4 separate regions of the Homo sapiens genome follow, and regions 1, 2 and 3 are each linked to region 4. The links come from fine-mapping of genetic effects on gene expression. A gene starts in region 4. Each other region holds a variant in brackets. All regions are shown on one strand. Distances are between the middles of the regions. Region 1 has its middle 4.4 kb from the start of GPR27. Region 2 has its middle 14 kb from the start of GPR27. Region 3 overlaps EIF4E3 (eukaryotic translation initiation factor 4E family member 3). Region 4 holds the start of EIF4E3 (eukaryotic translation initiation factor 4E family member 3).

What was found. PIP is the estimated chance that this variant, and not a neighbour inherited with it, causes the effect. A credible set is the group of variants that fine-mapping cannot tell apart.
Region 1: its variant is the best candidate, but not a certain one, in a credible set for the expression of EIF4E3 in whole blood (TOPMed, PIP 0.89).
Region 2: its variant is the best candidate, but not a certain one, in a credible set for the expression of EIF4E3 in prefrontal cortex (CommonMind, PIP 0.64).
Region 3: its variant is the best candidate, but not a certain one, in a credible set for the expression of EIF4E3 in whole blood (INTERVAL, PIP 0.88).

Annotation. Positions count from the first base shown.
Region 1 is chr3:71,746,916-71,752,066 of GRCh38, reverse strand. It overlaps a transcript of EIF4E3 not described here. Among named protein-coding and RNA genes, the nearest start is that of GPR27, 4.4 kb to the left of the region's middle. The variant C/T (reference allele first, on the strand shown) is at 2,738.
Region 2 is chr3:71,765,550-71,770,700 of GRCh38, reverse strand. No RefSeq gene overlaps it. Among named protein-coding and RNA genes, the nearest start is that of GPR27, 14 kb to the right of the region's middle. The variant AG/G (reference allele first, on the strand shown) is at 3,178.
Region 3 is chr3:71,701,712-71,706,862 of GRCh38, reverse strand. The region is part of intron 2 of EIF4E3 (eukaryotic translation initiation factor 4E family member 3); the gene reads left to right. Among named protein-coding and RNA genes, the nearest start is that of EIF4E3, 21 kb to the left of the region's middle. RefSeq lists an enhancer at 2,506-3,087. The variant C/A (reference allele first, on the strand shown) is at 2,272.
Region 4 is chr3:71,723,466-71,728,616 of GRCh38, reverse strand. It overlaps EIF4E3 (eukaryotic translation initiation factor 4E family member 3), which reads left to right and starts at 3,215. Exons shown (of 7, transcript NM_001134651.2): 1 at 3,215-3,425. The coding sequence starts at 3,250. RefSeq lists silencers at 3,491-3,560, 3,691-3,810.

The DNA of each region.
Region 1 (5,151 bases), 23 kb before region 4:
TGACTTGGGACTCCTAAGTGGCCAGCAGCAAGTGGCTGACCAGGCACATCTGTAAATGTATGTTGATAGAAAATAGATTTTGGAGGGTGTATGGGTTAGGAATTGCAGTTTGATACTAGTAGCAAAAAACGTGTACATGAGTTTATTTTCCTCGTGAAAGAAGAAGTTTGGAGGTCAGTAGTTGCTGACATTGATTTATTGGCTCAAGGACTGAATCTCTGAAAATCTTTTAGCCCTTCCCTCATGATCACAGTAGGCTGCCGACGCCCCAGCCATCATTTCTTCATTCCAGGCAGAAAGAAGAAAAGGGAAAAGAGCAGCAATATTCCAGCCATCTAAGTAGGAAGAGCTTTCTAGAAGCCCTACATTATAAACAAACACTTAAACATATCATTGGCTATCAATTGAGAGTGAGCACTTGAGCAAGGGAGGGTAGGAAATGGTTTCTTATTTCTTTGTTTAAAGTTAGACCCATGGCTGTAGAGAATTCGATCCTGCCTTGCTGTGGCCCTTAGCGCTTGGGCTGCCTCTGCCCAGAGGAGGGAATGCCTTCTTAATAACCCACACAAATTCACCAACTCTGGTTGCTTTATGGTAATACTAATGGCAGCCACCTTTTACTGAGCACTTGCCGTATGCCAAGCATTGTGCTAAATTCTCGACATGTGTTATTTAATGTAATCATTGTAATGGCCAGATGTGGTATGTGCTGTTACTGTCTTCATTTTGCAGAGGAGGCAGAAGGGTTAATTTGTTCACGCTTTCACCACTTACACTTACTTTACACTTACTTTCAAGTAAGTGTAAGAGCTGGAAGTCTGACTTTATTTATTTTGAAACAGGGTCTCACTCTGTCACCTAGGCTGGAGTCAGTGGCATCATCATGGCTCACTGCAGCCTCAACCTCCCAGGCTCAGGCCGTCCTCCTATCTCAGCCTCCTGAGTAGCTGGGACCACAGGCTTATACCACCATGCCCCGCTAATTTTTAAAAAATTATTTGTAGAGGCCGGATGCGGTGGCTCACACCTGTAATCCCAGCACTTTGGGAGGCCGAGGCGGGTGGATCATGAGGTCAGGAGATCGAGACTATCCTGGCTAACACGGTGAAACCCCGTCTCTATTAAAATGCAAAAAATTAGCTGGGCATGGTGGCAGGCGCCTGTAGTCCCAGCTACTCAGGAGGCTGAGGCAGGAGAATGGCATGAACCCGGGAGGCGGAGCTTGCAGTGAGCCGAAATCGTGTCACTGCACTTCAGCCTGGGCAACAGAGCGAGACTCCGTCTCAAAAAAAAAAAAAAACCAATTATTTGTAGAGATGGGGTCTCCCTATGTTTCCCAGGCTGGTCTAGAACTCCTGGGCTCAAGTGATCCTCCCACCTCAGCCTCCCAAAGTGCTGGGATTACAGGCGTGAGCCACCACACCCAGCTGAGGAACTCTGTGTTTAGAGTCCATCCTCATGATCTCCACAAACACTGCCTCTTTGTTATAACTGTGAAGAAAGCTTTTGAGTTTATAAAAGCAGTAAACTAACATACACAAACTACTGATGCTCCCGGGCACAGAATTATAACCCCTTTCGAGAGGGAAGGATTTTTCAAAACCATCTAATCCTAACACTTGAATTTTACAAACAGAGAAGCTCATGAATAGCTGAGTGGGAGGGAGAACCCAGGTCCTCCCACTCCTAGGTCACTACCTTCCACTTTAAATCTTCATATTTTTTATTCTAATGAGCACATGGTGTTCGACAAGTCACTTAACCTCTTGGAATCTCAAATGTGTCCATTTATGAAATGGGACGTTGGACCAAATGATTTCTGAGGGTCCTGGGCTCTGAAGTTGAGTTTAGGTATAAGGAAATGGAAGTTAAGTGATTATGTCTCCCAAATGGGGAGAGATTTATTTTTCAGAAAAGGACACAAAAGAAGAGACATTATTAATTCCTTATAACTTAAAATTTTCTGTTTTCTGTTTCTATCTACGGTGCAAAATGCTGCTCTTGAGATTTGGTTTAGTCATTTTCCCAGGCTCAAATAGCAGAAGCAGCAGTAGAAAATACATAAATCATGGTTCTCTCACAGCATTTATATGCCTACTTCTTTCATTATCAACATTTGTTCAGTAGATTAATACTTAAGGAAAAACTGTTCACATTTCATTGGCCAGGATCAACGTATTTTCCTTTTACTGTTTCTAGGAAGCTGCAGGCAAGAATTTTAAATGCTTTCTTAGGCACCAAATTGCATGCCTTCATCTCAAAGCAAAACAGCTCTATGACATTTTTTTCCTATAAGAAAATTTCCATTATTCTTGTATAATCAAATTATTCCTTTTGGACATAGAAACAAAAGTATTTCCCACCCCCACTCCCCAAATCATTTATGTCACTTCTTTGATGTACGTATAGATGGTGTGAATGGTACTAGAAATCCTGACTGTTCAGAGGAACTGGTTGGCACCCTTTGGCAGATACAGTCAAGGTCATGGGTTCCCTAATCATGAGGTCCAGTCTGGCCAGTGTATCCTGTTTAACCTCAGGCTTCTGGCCAGTCACCTGCCAATAGGTACATTAAACACCAAGTTAGAGAAGGTTGGTTTGACTTAACTCCATCCCAACTCTTAGAAAAAGTGAGCCAAAGTCTAGGCCCAGTGGATGTTGGATTATCAAAGGGCAGCACTCAAGTTGACCTCCCCATGGGACGAAGTCATAACTTTGACAATGAAAGTGGGCCTTG[C/T]GGTGAGGACCACTCTGGTTCATGTCCAGTTTCCACCACTGACTAGCTGTGCATTAGTGGTAGTTGTACATGAACCAGATTGTACCTAACTGTAAAGAGCCCAGACTTTGGCTCATTGGGCAAGTCTCTTGCCTGCTCTGAACGTCTGAATATCAAAAGCCCATTGTGGGAAGATTCAATTAAATGAGATTCATTTACAAAGAGTGTAGCACAAGGTGTGCACACAAGTCGTGTGCAATAAATGGTTAACTACACTTATGCATATTTGCTCTTACCTGACTATATAAATGTCTTGGCTAACCATGATTTAATTGACTTTTGTATTTCCCACCTCAGCTTAACCTAGCAGGATGCCCTGTACACAGTAGGTTCTCAATATGTATGTGGCAAGTATGAGTGTCAGTCTATATAATCAAGAGTGCAAGAAGTGCAGCTGCTTCCTAGAAACCTAATTTCTGACTCTGTGTTGCCATTTTGTCTTGCTGGTGGGGAAAAAAAGAGGTAGCCTTAGTGCATCTTGGGTTTCATCATGGGTCCTTGCTTTCTCAGAATATACTGTAATTTCAGGCAGGTGCCTAAATTGCCTAGTATATGGTCATTCAGGATAGTGCGCGCATGTGTGTGGGGTGTCCCTTCTCATATTTCATCAGTTGTTGGCATATCGTTCCTGTTCTTCCAAGCCATCGTGGTTTGGTGACTCTTGGCTGCCTTGTGCCAGACTTGTGGTGTGAGAATCTGGGCTGAGGATGCATTTGATATTAGATGCATCCACAGGTATTCTTCTCAGCAGTATATCTGAGAAACTGGGTGCAGCTCCCCTCTCTCTCAGTACCCTTCTCTTCTCCTCCTCCTACCTTCATCTCCAGGGACTCCCTATATACTCTGGAAGAGGGTGAAAACCCAGTTCTTCCTTGTTCTTCTGGACAATGTAATTATAGTCATCCCTCAGTATAAACAGGGAATTCGTTCCAGGGCCTCCGCGTGCACCCAAATCCATGCATACTGAAGTCCCATAGCCAGCCCTGCAGAACCCATATATATGAGAAGTCAGCTCTTCATATATGCAGGTTTCACATCTCTCAAATACTGTATTTACCATCTTGTTTTGATTGAAAAAAAAAATCACATATAAACCAACCCATGCAGTTCAAACCCATGTTGTTCAAGAGTCAACTGGAATCAATTTCCCTGGGAAGCTGTGTTCCCCAAATTCAGGTGTTTGGAAAAAATAAAAGCCGGGAAGCCACCTTGCCGTAAACCTCTCCTAGTCAAGGAAGCCCAGAGCCTGCTATCCACTTGAATGTTGGGAAGGAAAGGGAAAAATAGAGGAAGAAAAATGATCACTGCATATCTCAAAATATTGTGCTTGCTGTCTGTATTTGTTGAATGAATAACTGAATATCTTTATGTGTATATGTATAGCATATTGTTAAACTTCATTTAAGCAAAATGTGTTTAGTGAAAACTCTTTAACAGTTGGTTTTCTTTCTCCACATGCAAGAGAATGAAATTGCGCCCCAACCCCACCCCATATATTTTAAAAAATTCAAAATTGATGATAGACCTAAAACTCAGGGCTAAAACTATAACAACTCTTAGAAGAAAATATAGGAGTAAATTTTCATGACTTTAGATTAGGAAGTGGTTTCTTGGATATGTTCCCAAAAGGATAGGTGACAAAAGAAAAAAATACATAAATTGGATTTCATTAAAATTTTTAGGGTTTGTGCTTCAATAGACACCATCAAGAAAATGAAAGGCCCGCCTACAGAATGGGAGAAAATGTCTTCAGATAATGTGTCTGATGGGGGACTTGTATCCAGAGTATATAAAGAACTCATAACTCAAAAAAGACAACCCAATTTTAAAAATGGACAAAGGCTTTAAATAGGCATTTCTCTAAAAAGAAATGTAAATGGCCAATAAGCACATGGAAAGATACTTTGCATCATTAGTCAATAGGACAATGCAATTCAAACCATCTGAGATACCACTTCATATCTACTATAGTGGCTATTATCAAAAATGTAGATGATAACAGGTGTTGGTGATGATATGGAGGAATTGGAACCCTCAGATGATGCTGGTGGGGGTGGAAAATGATACAGCTGGTTTGGAAAATGATTTGGCAACTCCTCAAAAAGTTAAACATAGAGTTACCTTATGACCTAGCCATTTCACGCCTAGGCATTTACCCAAGAGAAATGAAAACATGTCCACATGAAAGCCCACATGTAAATGTTCATAACATCGTCATTCCTAATAACCAAAAGGATAAAGCAACACAAAGGTCAATGAATGAATGGATGGATAAATAAAATGTCATATATCCCTACAGTGGAATACTATTCACTCATAATAACAAGTACTGGTATGTGATGCTCCAGCGTGGATGAACCTTGAAAATACTGTGC
Region 2 (5,151 bases), 42 kb before region 4:
AGCTACCCTGGAGGCTGAGGTGGGAGGATCACCTGAGCCTGGGAGGTCAAGGCTGCTGTGAGCCGTGATATTGTGTTACTGCACTCCAGCCTGGTTGATAGAGCAAGACCCTATATATATATATAGAAAGAAAAAAAGGCTATGATGTTTCTTCCAGTTCCTAGGATTGTCTCACACACATGCTGGGACTTCATAGACCAGAATTTCCACAAAGTAAGGCAAGATGAAAATTTACACGAGAAAAACTAAATCCACAGTCTACTTTGAAAATATCATGAATGAATTCCCTTCATTCCAAGGTAGAAAGAAATCTTATGCTAGAAGATGATGCCCAAACCCTACTGGACCTTCGGATTTCTTTGCAAACATTGACTTTCATGAAAACTATCATTTCTGACTTTGTTTTGCCTTTTATCAGAAGCAACATTTTTTTAACCATAGAAAAGTTTATGCCGAAACTATTTCCTATAAACCCTCCTATCTCACTGAGAACCTTTATTCTTCTCAGTATTTCAATGTAGTTCTTTTGTTAGAGCCTTTTATAAAGTCAGTTCAGTGATAGATCAAACACATAGCCCAATTTTCCTCTTCATTGGTTTCAATATTAGAAACCTCATCCCACACTTTTCTAGCTTCATTTTTAGAAGGTTAAAGCTGGGGGCCATTTTAACTTTAAAAACCAGACACTTTTGGTATTCAGTAAGGGTCCCTGTGCAATTCACTAGCAACCTTTTATGGTGTTTCCACCTCCATGTTGCTATGTCTTTCTGATAATATCCTCAGAATTAGTCTCTGATATCTTTCCCAAAGTTGTTAATTCTCACTCCCTTTTGTGTTAAAGAGAACTCAGTTTCTTCCAGCATTTTCACAAATTTTAATTGACAAAAATTGTATTTATTTATGGTATACAACATGATGTTTTGAAATATGGATACATTGTGGAATGCTAAATTGAGCTAATTAATGTATAGACTACCTCACACATCATTATTTTGCAATGAGAACAGTTAATATCTCTTAGTGATTTTCAAGTATACAGTATTAACTGTAGTCACTGTGTTGTATGATATATCTTCGTTCCAGGATTTTTTAATGTATTTCAAAGATGACAGTCTTTAACAACATGATCTTTAAATAAACTTTATTATCCCCCATATATATATATATATATATATATATATATATATATATATATATGCATATGTGTATATATTTTTAGGGTACTTTCAGAGTACACATTTCCCAAAATTAGACATGCAATTATGATGCTGTTCTTGAAGTACAGTTCCCATTTTTTCCATCACCCACCACTCTGAAAAATTTTGATTTGATTTTTATAGGATGAGGCCTAAGTGTTAGGATTTTTTTTAAAGCTCCCTGATTAATTGCAAGGTACATCCATAGTTGAGAGCCACTGAGAACCAATACAGGACTGTGTTCCTATAGAAAGGTTACTGGTACCCAGTGACACTATTTGATGAGACACCTTCCTAGTTGAATTAGAAATGAGGATAGTAGCTGAGTGTCTTTGAATTTCTTACCCTCAAAAGTTCCTGTGGTCCTCAGCACCAGTTCCCTTTCATTCTAGAGGGAAGCACACAGAGGGGTCCCACTGGAGAATTCCCAGCAGCAATTAGCCCATTTGAAGAATTCATGTGAAGTTCCCTAGAATTAGATTAGGGAAGCAGGCCCCAGTCCAACCTGGCTAGCCTCACAGCTCCCTGGGTTTCATGAGTTCTCACATCCTCTAGTGCACCCTCCGGGGTGACCCAGCTTCAAAACTCCCTAGCAGGCACTCCCCTCTCCCAGCCCCTTCCGCATACATCTCAGGATTTCATTCTATTTTGCTGGGTCCATAAATCATCTAAGTGCTTTAGAAAGCCCAATATTGCACCACACTGTAACTGAATAAATCAGAATGGTAAGCATTTCAATAAAATAGATATTTGTCATAAAAGATTAAAAGCAAAAAAGTAGGAAATTGTGGTATAGGCAACACGATGGCTGGCAACAAAATGCAGAGGCTAACGCATATTTAAGCATTCTTGTGCCCCTGTGGAGATTCCCTCATCATAAAGCCTGGAATGCCGACTCATGCAGTTGTGCCAGCTGGGCAAAACGATGGCCTTCTCCATGGAGTGACAACCATGGTGAACAGTTCCAGGCACTCTCACATTACTCCAGAGTTTCTCCATCTCAACGCTAGTGACTTTCTGGGCCACTTTTTTTTTTTTTTTTTTTTTTTTTTTTTTTTTTTTTTGAGACAGAGTTTTGCTCTGTCACCAGGCTGGAATGCAGTGGCATGATCTCTGCTCACTGCGACCTCTGCCTCCTGAGTTCAAGTGGTTCTCCTGCCTCAGCCTCCCGAGTAGCTGGGACTACAGGCGTGCACCACCATGCCCGGCTAATTTTTGTGTTTTTAGTAGAGACAGTGTTTCACCATATTGGCCATGGCTGGTCTTGAACTCCTGGCCTCAAGGGATCTGCCCACCTCAGTCTCCCAAAGTGCTGGGATTACAGGCATGAGCCACTGCTCCTGGCCCTGGGCCACATAATTTATTGTTGTGCAGGACTCTCCTGTGCATTGTAGGATGTTTAGCAGCATGCCTGGCTACTAGTTCCAGTAACACTCCCCAAGTTTCGACAACCAAAAACGTCTCTAGACATTGCCAAGTGTCCTCTGCAGGTTGCAGGTGGGGATAAATTGTCCCCCTTTGAAAACTACTGCTTTAGTCTAAAGCTATTTTGTGTCTGCTTGACTTCACTTGATAATAATATGTTTTTATTTCAGTATAAAAAGTTGAAAAGACAGTATTTAAAAAGTTAAAACCTCCAAATGTGACACTGCAAAATAAGTATCCTAAAAAACAAGCAAAATATTTTGTATCCAAAATAGTGGATGGGGCTGGGCATGCCAGTGGCTCACACCTGTAATCCCAGCACTTTGGGAGGCTGATCACTTGAGGGCAGGAGTTCAAGACCAGCCTGGCCAACATGGCAAAACAGGTAGCTGGGATTACAGGTGTGCTGGTGCATGCCTATAATCCCAGCTGCTGAGGAGGCTGAGGCACAAGAATTGCTTGAACCCAGGAGGTGAAGGTTGCCTTGATCCAAGATCAAGCCACTGCACTCCAGCTTGGGTGACAGAGCAAGACTGTGTCTCAGAAAAAAAAAAAA[AG/G]TAGTGGAAGGGTAAAACATTTGATATAATTTACATATTCAATAAAAAAATCAGTTATCTGTCAGCTCTATAGTTTACTGTGTTTCAAGGAAGAAATTTTTATAGTCACTCTTTAAAATAAAGTTTAAGATGAAGGACTCTTTGGGAGGCCGAGGCGGGTGGATCACAAGGTCAGGAGTTCAAGACCAGCCTGGCCAAGATAGTGAAACCCCATCTTTACTAAAAATACAAAAATTAGCCGGGCTTGGTGCTACTCGGGAGGCTGAGGCAGGAGAATTGCTTGAACCCAGGAGGCAAAAGTGGCAGTGAGCAAAGATCGCACCACTGCACTCCAGCCTGGGAGACGGGGTGAGACTCCGTCTCAAAAAAAAAAAAAAAAAAGAAAGAAAAAAGATGCTATATAATTCATCTGATATTCATCTATTCATCTAATTTATGATTGAATTAATAATTAATCTGAGCCCTTCATCTTTTTTTTTTTTTTTTTTTTTTTTTTTTTTTTTTTTTTTGAGGAAATGTGTCTCCCAGCCTTGTCTGGAACTCCTGGGCTCAAGTGATCCTCCCACCTTAGCCTCCCAAAGTGCTGGGATTACAGGTATGAGCCACCACACCCGGCCAACTTCACATCTTTAGAGTATACTTCTAACACATTTCCACACTGTTTAAATCTAAATTTTAATCATCTTGATTAAAATGTGATATAACTAATGGAAAATTGTTTTGCAGAAATGTAAAAGCTTTACAAGCAAAATTGGGGGCAATTGTGCTTTATTAAGTTAAACAGTTGAATAATTGCTGAGAAGTTCACATGTAGTCTTTCCGTGCAAACAAGACTGAGGCTGGCAGGGATGCATTTGGTTCATTCTTAAAAGCAAACAAGCAAATCAACAAAAACTTTGTATTATTGAAATTTTTAAACATAAAAGTAAAGGAGTGTAAAGCAGTCTCATCTATCCATCATTCAGTGTCTCATCAGCATTTATCATCTTGATGCCAAGCGTCTTCTACCTCTACCGCCCCACCTACCTCCACCCCTTCTGTATTGTGTTGAAGTGAATCAATTTTGTCCTTTCTTGACAAGGTCCACTGGTCACTATTTCATATGGAAAAGACAGCCAGCCACATTCTGTATGTTATCAATACATCTTCAGCCTGTACTCTTAAATATTTGCTCTTGAGATATATTTTTGAAATCCAAAATAGGCGTTTGAAATGGAGGAGCAAAATATTTCAGGCCCAGAATGTGTATGTGAATGAACGTTTGCTCCTGTATAGAAATTTAAAAGAAAATATTTTGCGACTCAAAACATAGGAGACTTAGAGAAGTTTATGTCTAACTGTGGTGCTGTGATTGGTTTATAGGAGCTGAATGGTGCCTGAAATTAGTCACATTTGCTTTAAACAGCAAATGTGAATATTCTGTATTAATTTTTTTGAATCTGGTTAGAAGAGGAAAAATTTCTACATGGAAGATATTTAATAAAACTGGTAGACTCTTAATTGTCTTCCACAGTTCTTTTATTCTCACATTTATTCATTACTTCTCATATTCTCTCTCTCTCTCTCTCTGTTTTAGCAGGGTACATGACCACCCATCTAGACATCTAGAGACTGGAGACTGCATTTACCAGCTGCCCAAGTGTGGCCATGTAATGTAAATTCTTAGCGATGAAACGTGAACAGAAGTGATCTGCCACATTTACTTAAAAGAAAACTCCACTTCCTCTCCAATAAGGAGATGCAATAATGAACCTGTCTGCTTTGCAGAGAGTGAAGGCAATTGGGAAAGATAGTAGAGCTGACCCACCAACGTGGGTCCCTGGATAACCTCCAAAAGCAGTCACCTCATATTAGAGAGAGACAATCATGCCACCGTTGTAACTTTGTTAAAGCACTCCCACCTCTACTAACCAAAAAGTGGAATCATTCTCTTCAAAAGTGCATCATGTTTTTTATACTTTATACTTCATTTT
Region 3 (5,151 bases), 22 kb after region 4:
TATTTTATTCTAGGATTGTATATTAATTTTTTTTTCTTCAGAAACAGGGTCTCACTTTGTCACCCAGGCAGGAGTGCAGTGGTGCTATTATAGCTCACTGCAGCCTCAAACTCCTGGTCTCAAGAGATCCTCCCACCCCAGCCTCCTCCCAAGTATCTGGGACTATAGCCATGTGCTACCACACCCAGCTAAATTATTTTATTTTTTTTGTAGAGATGGGGTCTTGCTATGTTGCTCAGGCTAGTCTCGAATTTCTGACCTCAAGCTGTGTTCCCTCCTTGACCTCCCAAAGTGCTCAGATTACAGGCATGAACCACTTTGGCCTGTACGTTGATCCTTTTACTCTCACTCCATTAGCACTAAAAAAAACTGCTTCTCCAATTATGTCTGTGTTTTCCTCCCATATGTGTTTAGATGAAAGGTAAAAATCATGTGATATTAATGATTGTCTTATTAAAGACATATGAGTCTTTTTATACTTTGAGGCCCTTTAGCAAATCAAAGTAGATGGTTTGGGAGAGGAATCGTTACCCCGTCTATTAGTTGAGGAGACTGAGGCTGGAGGTAAGAGGCCCAAACATTCCATGATTGGAAAGAGCCAGTCATGCCTTGCCTCTAGGACTAGAATTCCCTCCCAGTCCAATTCTCTTTCTTTTACTCCCCGTGATTGAGGAGTGGAGGAGACTCAGCCTCCAAAGGACCTGGGAACCCCTGCTGAGGACACTTTCATCACACCTAACAATAATTCTCTCTGCCTGGAGTTAAATTCATTTCTACTTTCCTAACTTTCTTGGAAAATTCCATTTTACATCTAGGCGTATTTTCCAGATGCTTATTGATTCTCTTACTCCTTTGTGAACCTGTCCAAATTTTCCACATTTCTCTTGTGATTTTGCATCCTCAGTGGTTGCAGTGCAGAATAGAAAATGGCTTTTAGCCGGGTGCATTGGCTCATGCCTGTGATCTCAGCTACTCAGGAAGCTGAGGTGGGAGGATTGCGTGAGCCCAAGAGTTCGAGTTCAGCCTGGGAAACATGGCAAGACCCACATCTCTGGGAGAAAAAAAAATAGAACACGGCTTTTGAACAAGCCCTGTTTTACCTGTTGGAGAATGAAGAGCTACCTGCCATTTGTGATTTGCAAGAGAAGTCTCCCTTCTCCAGTTTCTTTCAGCCTTATCTGCTACAAGACTAAAAATTCCACCCCTGAAAACTCATTCCTGTACAGCACTCTGTCTCGAACATCAGTTATTTGGTGTATCGCCTTAAAGATTTTGCCACACCTATCTCACTTGTGGTACATTCTACCCAGTATTTCTTATAACTTGACTTCTTATTTAAATTTGCATAAAACAGAAACCATATTTCCTCTATAAGTGGAAATTCAGCATCGTTTATCATAAGCAGAAAGTCTTCCTAAAGAGTATATATAACCTATTGAAATTAAGAAAATGTTTCCCCTGCATATGCCAAACCTATCCTGTGTGCTGTCGATAATATCAAGACTTCATATCCGCAGGTCAAGCCGCCTGACTGGAGTTGTGCAGTTAAGTTAGGGCAGCAGATTGCTTTCCAAACCCTTGGGAAATGAGGGCTCTTCCTTCAGAAGAAGAGGTTTTCTAGGTCAGTATTGATCATGGAGGATGGTGGAAAGATTGATTCCAAGTACTTGCTGCCCTGGACACAGCAAGACAGCCCATGGTGTGTGGTGTCCTGCAATAGAATGACCTGGAGTGAACCACTTGGCTGAAGGGAGGGGCCTGAGGGGAGAGAGGAGGAAAGCCAACACTGAAAAGAGAAAGAGAAGGACCTGCAGCCAGGTCCACTTCATAGTTCTGTCTAGCACAGACTTTGCATCCAGTATAACAAGATTCTTTATCCATCATTTAGTTTATTCATTATATGCATAATAGGATCAACATCTATAGCTACAATCCAGTTATGAAGAAATATAACTGAAGTTAAATTGCTTGTATTCCTCCACATTCTCAGTGGAGGCTGTTGTGTCTGTGTATTGGGTGGGGTGAGACTTGACCTTGTTAATTAAAAGTAATTTAGTCACTTCAACTGTGAAACTGGGTCTCTTCTAATTTAAATCTCTTTTGGGAAAAATGACCACCCTCTTCTCCTTCTCCATATGAACAGGCATATGCAGAAATACCCCTGACCCCTCCTGACCTTGGGCCATGCCCACCACCTTTGGCCCTGCTGTAACCTCATGTTATGAAGACCCCTGCTATGTACACACACATCCAGACCCCAGGCCCTGTTGT[C/A]CTTAGGCTTTCTAGCAATTTCAAGCTCCAGATTGGAGATTTAGGAAATGTTGGCTGCCTTCCCCCGACCCCACCAGAATGAGGGGAACTCTATAAGGTTGTGGCAGGCCCTCCCGGCCAGAATAACCCCTCCTGCCTTCACAGCTGTTCTCAGACCTGACCGCCATGTTGCTCAGCGCTGTAGGAATGAGGGCCTTTTCTGGGAGTCTTGGAGCCTCTTGGGCTGTACCAGGAAGCAGGTTCCACACTCCTCTGGTCTAGGCATCCCCAATCTTTGGGTGGGGCTCTCTCCCATCCTTTCAGGGTTTTAACCCCACTGTCCTCTCTCTCCAAGCTTTTAACTCCCCAACTCAGAGTTGGTTTTTACTAACTTTCTATGTGGTGGGAAATTACCCTCACATCCTGTCACATCTCGTTTACTCTATGATCACAACTCCACACTTGGGCTCTCTCTTTAAGCCAAGCCCTTTTTGGAATTCAAAGGAAAACCCATTTCTCTCTCAAGTACCTAGCTCTTGTAAATCAGAAGCACTTTGCTTTCAGCCTTTGTGTCTGCTGTGAGTTAAAAACATCCATTAAACTCTTCAGTTGCCTATTCGGTTCAGATGCCTATTGGCCCTGCCCATAAATACCACTTATTCAGTTGGTGGGAAGCCCCAGGCAACTAGTAATACCTAATGAGCAAAAATATTTGTTTTGTTTTTTTGGAAATACTCTCTTGCTACACATGCCACAACCTTGGAATAAATCCTGGAATTTTTTTTTTTTTTTTTTTTTTTTGATGTGTGTTTGCTGGGTGGTTTTGTTTCTGGTTTGTTTTACAAAACAGACATATCACTTTGTTGTCTGTCAACACATGACATCTTTTCTTCTGAAGAATTTCCAAGTGCATTCTTTTTCTTCAGAACATTTCAGTAGGAAATTGAGGAGGAAATTTGCCAGTTTTCTTGGTAATGAATGATTATCTATTTGGCAGAAGGCTGTAAGGTGGGGCATAGTTGCTCCAATCAGTGCTATCAGATTGGGGATTTATCAAGTGGTCAGCATATTAATGGGTCTAACCATACTTTGTTTCCTTCCTTAGGCCTAGCAAGTGCTTTCACTTTGCATTTCATCATTACATTTTCCAGTGAAATAGCTGTATCCTTATACAGAGGAGGCAACGTGGGTTTCACGGGCTACATGACCTGTGAAGGTTATGCTGAGAACCTAGGTCTTAAATCCAGGTATTAGACTCCACTGGACAGGTGTCTTCCCTGCCTCAGTTTCTCCAGGAGAGGTGCCAGATTGGTGTTCCAGAACATACCTCCCAAGGAGTGGATTGCTGTGGTCAAAAGCTGACCCTCCTGCATTCAGCTAAGTTCCCCAAGGACCCGTCACAGTGCTCTGTTCACAACTGATGGTCACAGATGTTGACTGAATGAATGATGTTCAACTTTTATACCTCTCCTAGTCTTAGGGTGATTATCAAGGCTTTTGGGAAAAAAAAGCATTTAACCATCATTAATAAACATTGTGCTTAGTTTTACTTTTACTGCAATCTTGGATTTGCAAGTCTAACAGAATTAATTATAAGCCTAAAGGCTTCTGAAATCTATTTGCAAGATTTTATATATAGTAAAATTTAAGTGTTTCCATTTTCAAGATGTGTTACAGAGAGTATAATCTTGAATTACCAGGCTTCCGCTGTAGCAGACCTTTCACTTCTGCAAGGGCGGAAGAGGTTTTCAGGAGCTGAGTAATGCTAGATTCCTTCCTGTAGGTATTTCACCAGCAGACATACTTCACAAATATTCTACCTATTGGATGAGGTTTGCAACAGGGAAACAGACCAGTTTAATGACACATGCTTTTCAAATAGGGCTTTTTTTTTTTTTTTTAATGGTGTGACCGGATATTTTGCTCCTATTTTATGCTCAGCAAAAACGTACAAATATGTGCTTTAATGAATATGTTAAGTCTATCACTGATCTTCTTGGGCTGTAATCTCTTCCTGTCAAATTTGCCAAGCCAAGCAGAATCAGTTGTCTGTTTTTGTTTTCAAGAGAAGCTTCTAAAGCTCCAATCCTTAGCATGATCTTTAGTGTTTTTCTGATCTTTGAAATGGAAGAAGTGTTTTGTTGTATTTTTTCAGTGTGCTTCAAGTACTAGGTTAAAAAGTCAAGATTTGACAACTTTGACCGGGGTATGACGGCAGGAACTTTGGTTTGTGATGCCTTTGAGGAGACTTGAAGTTTGCCAGCACCAAAGTCCTCTTAGTTTTACCTTAGGCAGGGGTTTTCCTCTTAATGTTATTTTGTGCATAAATTCTACAGAGGTCATTGCCACATCGTAACCAGGTTCTCAGGCTGGAGTTGACAACCACCAGCCTCTTGTGAATTATGGGCATTTTACTGGTGGGAAAATATCTTCAACATGTGTCCCTCTTTCTGTGGCTTCATGACCTGATTCTTGGCTGCTAAGATTGGAGAAAGATGTGTCAAAAACATATAGTAGTATCTTCGAAGAAAATAGCTGAGTGGTTAGGAACAGAGGTTTGGGAATCAAATTGCCTGGATTCAGATTCCAGCCCTGCCTACCCACCCTCACACCACAGAAACTGAAATATTGGAATAATCTTATTTGTACAAATAGCAAAGCATTTACAGGATAGGTACCTCCATAGAGGCAGATGGGTGTTTGAGGAGCTACTGTTAATACAGTAGCTTTTAACTCCTCACTACACTAGCACCATTTTAGTAGAAGGGAGCCAAAGTGGATTCTCAATTAATACATCTGTCATCCTGTAGTTTTTTGCCTTCAATTTGATCTTATAGTTCATCATTGCCACCTTTGCAGTTAATTCAGCTTTATTATTTTTTTAACACAAAACAGGCTTGA
Region 4 (5,151 bases):
GGGGTCACCTTCTCTTCCTCTCTTCTGCCACCCCAAGTCGTCTGTGTTGCGTGTCATGCAGTGGGACAGCACGTTGGTCCGGACCTCAAGCTACCCACGTTCTAGTCCCGCCTCTGTCATTTCCTAGAGCTGTGGCCTCGGGTAAGTCACCTCACCTCTCTGGGCCTCAGTTTCCTCATTTGTAAAGTGATGGGTTTGCTTAGATGATCGCTGAATCCCCTTTCTACCTTGAAATTCTAGTTCCTGCCATCCAGTTCCCAGATGAGGGAAATTTCCCCAATTTATTATCTTCTAAGAATGATTCTGAAGAGCAATAAAAATAATTAAGTCTCTTACATATTTCAAACAGGAAGGGAATGAAAGTTGTGACCATTGTTCCCTCCTTAGCCATTTTGTATAATCTCTTTTATTAATCTTAAGGTCATTTAAATTTTATCTATTCATATATACCACCTACTTCCAAAATAAATTTGAGGGGTTCAGTGTAAGGTGCATATATGCTATTAGGTCTTTAAAATAGAAATAGGAATAAATATAAAAATAGTGATGCTTCTTCATTGGCTAATATTGGTGCTGTGATTGAGCACCAAATGTAATTATGAGCAGCCTGGAAGCCAAAGCAAAAAGAGAGAAAGGTATATAATTGCTATTCAGTAAAGAAAAACTGCCAGACTGTTCCTAGTTCTAAATTCTGGAGGGAATTTTTTCATGTGGTACACAATCCTTTTACAGAAACTGCAGATAAAAATTCTTGACTAGCCCTTTTTTGCTGAGGATATTGTTAAAGGACATAAGGAAGGAGCTAAACTTGACAGTTTGACTAGCTTTAATCATTAGAAAGCAAAACTTCCTTTCTACCCATGCCTTGGAATTTTATACAGATATGTGTCACTTCGTAAATATAAATTTTCAGAATCAACCATTATTTATATATCAGCTATATATAAATTCATGTAACCACTTTGCAAAGCAATTTGGCAATATGTATCAAATTTTTAAATGCAGCCAACAATTCTTCTCCAAACTTATTCTGAGATTAGCTTGTGTAGATGAAGAAAGCCATAAATATAAAAATACTTATGGTAGCATTATTTATATAAGAAAATGTCTAGAAACCACATAAATGTTGGAGGCTAGTGAATTAAATTATATTACCTCTTTACAATGAATTACTTTGCAGCCCTTAAGATAAAGTAGATCTATATGTTTTGATATGGAAAAATCTTCAAGGATATAATGTTAAGTGAAATAAGAAGGTACAGCATTGGTATTAAATGCTTCCATTTTGGTTATAAAAAAGATATAGATTTATAACTTATGAATCTAGATATATGCTTGCATGTGCATACTTGCATTTTTCTGGAAGGAAACTGTTGCCAGTGGTTTCCTCTGGGAATGAAGATTGATAGTCTTGGGAGGGAGGGAGACCTACTATTCACAGCTTGTTTTTACGTTGTGGACTTGTTAGTGTTCTGTGTAGAGAGGTAGGAGAGTCTGGCAGTTGAAAGTCTAGACTCTGGAGTCTGAATACCTATGTTCAAATCCCAGCTGTCCCACTTACTAGCTCTGTGACCTTGGGGTTATCTTAATCTTATCTCTGTTCCTCATCTGTAAAATGGGTTAATAGTATCTTCCTCATTGGCTTATTGTAAGGATTAAATGAGTTATTACGGGTAAAGTGCTCAGAGCAGTTTAAACAATGCCATATACCACGCTTCTTGGAAAAATGAAAGGAGATATTAAGCAACAAGATAAATGCATCTAACCAAAAGCACCCTCCCCTGTTTTAGTGTTGGACAGATTTTATAAAATCTGTCATTGCTTCCAGCATTGTATGTTGTATAGAAGTTAAGTTTAAAGCAGCGGTCTTGTTTTTATTATTGTCACTTTATGTGACCTTGATTACCTTTTAGGGAGGGCATCTACTCTGGGATTCATGACAGTCTGCTATGATGCTGTTGATGCCCCTGAACTCATCTTGTTTTGTAGCTCTTCCATCCCAGCGAATGCTCAAGGCATGAACAGAACACATGCTAGGCCAGGTAGAAGGTCAATGAGGAGATGGCATCCCACGCCCTTCACTGTTCAAAGCCAGAGAGGAACTATCTAGAAATTCAAGTGTAAAGAGGATGTCCATGCTGGTTGTGACATGTGTGTTCACAGGCCTCATGCCTTTGCTTTTCTTTTGAAAAAGAAAGTGACAGAGACCTGGGGAGATGCTGTGTTAGGAGGGCCCCTCCTACTTTGGGCTCAGGAATCTCACCGCCTAAGGGACTTCCTGGGTGCTCAGAGGTACAGGAAGCAGAGCGCTCTGTGTTCACAGGTGCCCGCTTTCCTCCTCCCGACTCGCCGGTGCTTTAGGGCAGATCTGGATACTTTGGCTGATTTTGGGAAATGTTCTCTGAAGTTAGCCACACGTTAAGCCAGGCTTGAGGCCTTCACTGTGGTCACATGGTAGCTCCAGAGGTTGGGATGGGGGCTCTGGCCCCTTCAAATCAGCGGAGTTAGGAAGTATGCTCTCACCAAGAGGAATGCAAAGCCCACCTGCTCCAACCTCATGCCCCAGTCGGTGGTTCTCTTGTTCGTTCTTCTTTCTCGCCCTTTGTTCTGTACTCGCGGGCACTGGAGTCTCTTTATCCATTTGGCCATCGGTTCCCCTCTCCATTTATCTGTCACACCCAACTGTGCTTCCATCTGCCCTCCATCCCTCCTTCTCTCCTCCAGCCATCTGCCAGCCTTCACTCCATCCTTCTGACTGCTGGTATGTCTGTCCATCCCTCCTTCCCTCGCACCACGTGGGTCTGGGGCTCCATCCCCTGTCCCATCCATCCCTCCATCTGTCCCTAGCCTGCCGCTCCATCCCGCTGCCCTTTTGCATGGCTGCAGAGCCAGCCCGCAGACCGTTCCCCGGTCCCTCTCACCCCCGTGGGCCCTCTAGCCCGTCCCCGGCCGCCACTCCAGGCCAGGCCGTCAGTCTCCCACGCTGGGCCCGCGCCTGAGCGGGATCGGCCCCCCATCCCTCCGTGGGTCTGTCTTTGTTCGGCGGCCCCGGCCCGGCCGTGCCTCCCACGGCCCCTCCGCGCGGCTCCCAGGCCCTGAAGGCGGCGGGCGGCGGGCGGCGGGCGGCGGGCGGCTAGCCCGGGGCGGGGCGGGGCGCGCGGGGCGGGGCGGGGCGGGGGCCGGGGGTGACTCAGCCGCGCTCGCCCCGCGGTCCGCGCGTCCGCCGGCCTTGCAGGCGGGGCGGAGAAAATGGCGCTGCCCCCGGCCGCCGCGCCCCCCGCCGGGGCCCGGGAGCCGCCGGGGTCCCGCGCCGCCGCCGCTGCCGCCGCCCCCGAGCCGCCGCTCGGCCTGCAGCAGCTGTCGGCGCTGCAGCCTGAGCCGGGCGGGGTCCCGCTGCACTCGTCCTGGACCTTCTGGCTCGACAGGTGAGGGGGCGCGGGGCCCGCCGCGCACGGCCCCGACCCGGGTCCTGCCGCCACCGCCGCTTTGTCTCGGCGCGGCCCCTCGCCCCGGCCCCGCTCCGCTGTGGCACAGACCTCGGCCCCTCCGCGCGTCCGCCTGCGCACCCCGGGACTCGCCCCGCCGGGTCGGAAGCCAGCTTCGGGCCGCGCCGGGCGGCTGTTCGGCGTCCTCGCCTCCGGGCCGGGGGAGGACAGCGCAGCCCGAAAAGTTTCGGCAACACTTTCTACCCCTTGTTCCCTTCCGATCGGAACGCGGCGTGCTGGCAGGGCCGTGGGAGAGGGTAGGCGAGCTGGGGGTGGCCGCGTCCCTGCTGCAGGGAGAGGGCTGTCCTGCTTACCCCGCGGGGCGCCTGGGAGCTCAGGACACGACCTCAGCTGTGACAGCGCTCGGAAAAGTTGCCCATCCCTTGGGAGGTGTGCGGTGGTGCAATGATTATTGCACGGCGGGCGCTCCCACCCCGTGTCCGGCCGCTGCTGCCGTGGACTCCTCTTCCAGTTCTTCCTCATCCACTGGGCAGGTATTTCCTGAACACCTACAGTGGAGCCACACACCTGCTATGCGCTGGAGATTCAATAATGAGCAGCAGCTGACCTTGTCAGGAAGGGGGTGAATTATGGCTTTCTCAAGGGACAACCCAGGTGCCATCTTTTCAGAAAGACCCCCTGACTACCGTATCTAAAATAGAAACCTTGCTCCCTCGTTTTGTATTCTCCTGCCCTGCCTTCTTTTTCTTCCTAATGCTTAATGCAGCTGGATTTTATTATATATGAATTTGTTTACTTTCAGTCTGTCTCCCCAGCTCCTCAACACCTCCCCTCAGTTAAGGATAAAAGAGCAGTGGATTTTTGTTTTTGGACATTTTGGACCTAGAACTGTGCCTGGTCCCTAGTAAGAACACCAGAAATTGTTATGAATGAATAGATGGATGAATGCAAAGCCCCTTCTTAGTGTCTGCCCTGCAGTGGGTGCCCAATGATGACACCTCAAGGTTGTCCCAAGAGCATTTGGAAATTTTGATGAAACCGTGTCTATTCTGGCTAAGTGTTAGGAAGAAATGTGTGACAGTGTTCTGAGAAGTTTGCTTGGTACACACAAATCTGGTTTTAAAAGGCTTTGCATAAAATGACTGCAAGATTTTGTTTTAAAAAAGTGATATTCATTTTTTTTTTGGTTAAGACAAGCTCATTTCTTTTTTCCTTTTGGGTTCTTATAGCACCCGTCTATAAGAATTGTCACTTGCTGCCATTTTCTTTGCCGGAGACCCAAAAAAGTTGGGGGTGGGGGAGATGGAGTGAGTTTCGTTCTTTCAAAACATTTTCACTTTCATTATGGGATGCTAAGAGAGCATTATACTGTCATAACAAGCGTGCTTTTGGCAGACCTTAGCAGAATGAAATCGTGTCTGTTTTCATAGGTGTGCTGCAACTGTGCTATTGTTACCTGGTATCTGTTTTCAAGGTGTTAAACCTGGACCTGTGGTCTAAATTGTGAATACTGCTGACTGGTGGAAACAGTATCAAGAGAGTTTCTTTTTAAACAGGTCTAAAATTAGTTTACATGTAGGAACAACACTTTTAAGGACTGGTCTAAAATGTCAATACTACAGATAACACAATCTTTTAAGACTAGTAGCTTAAGATTATAGTAACTTTAATGAAGACAAAAACTATATCTATACTATTGATTTAC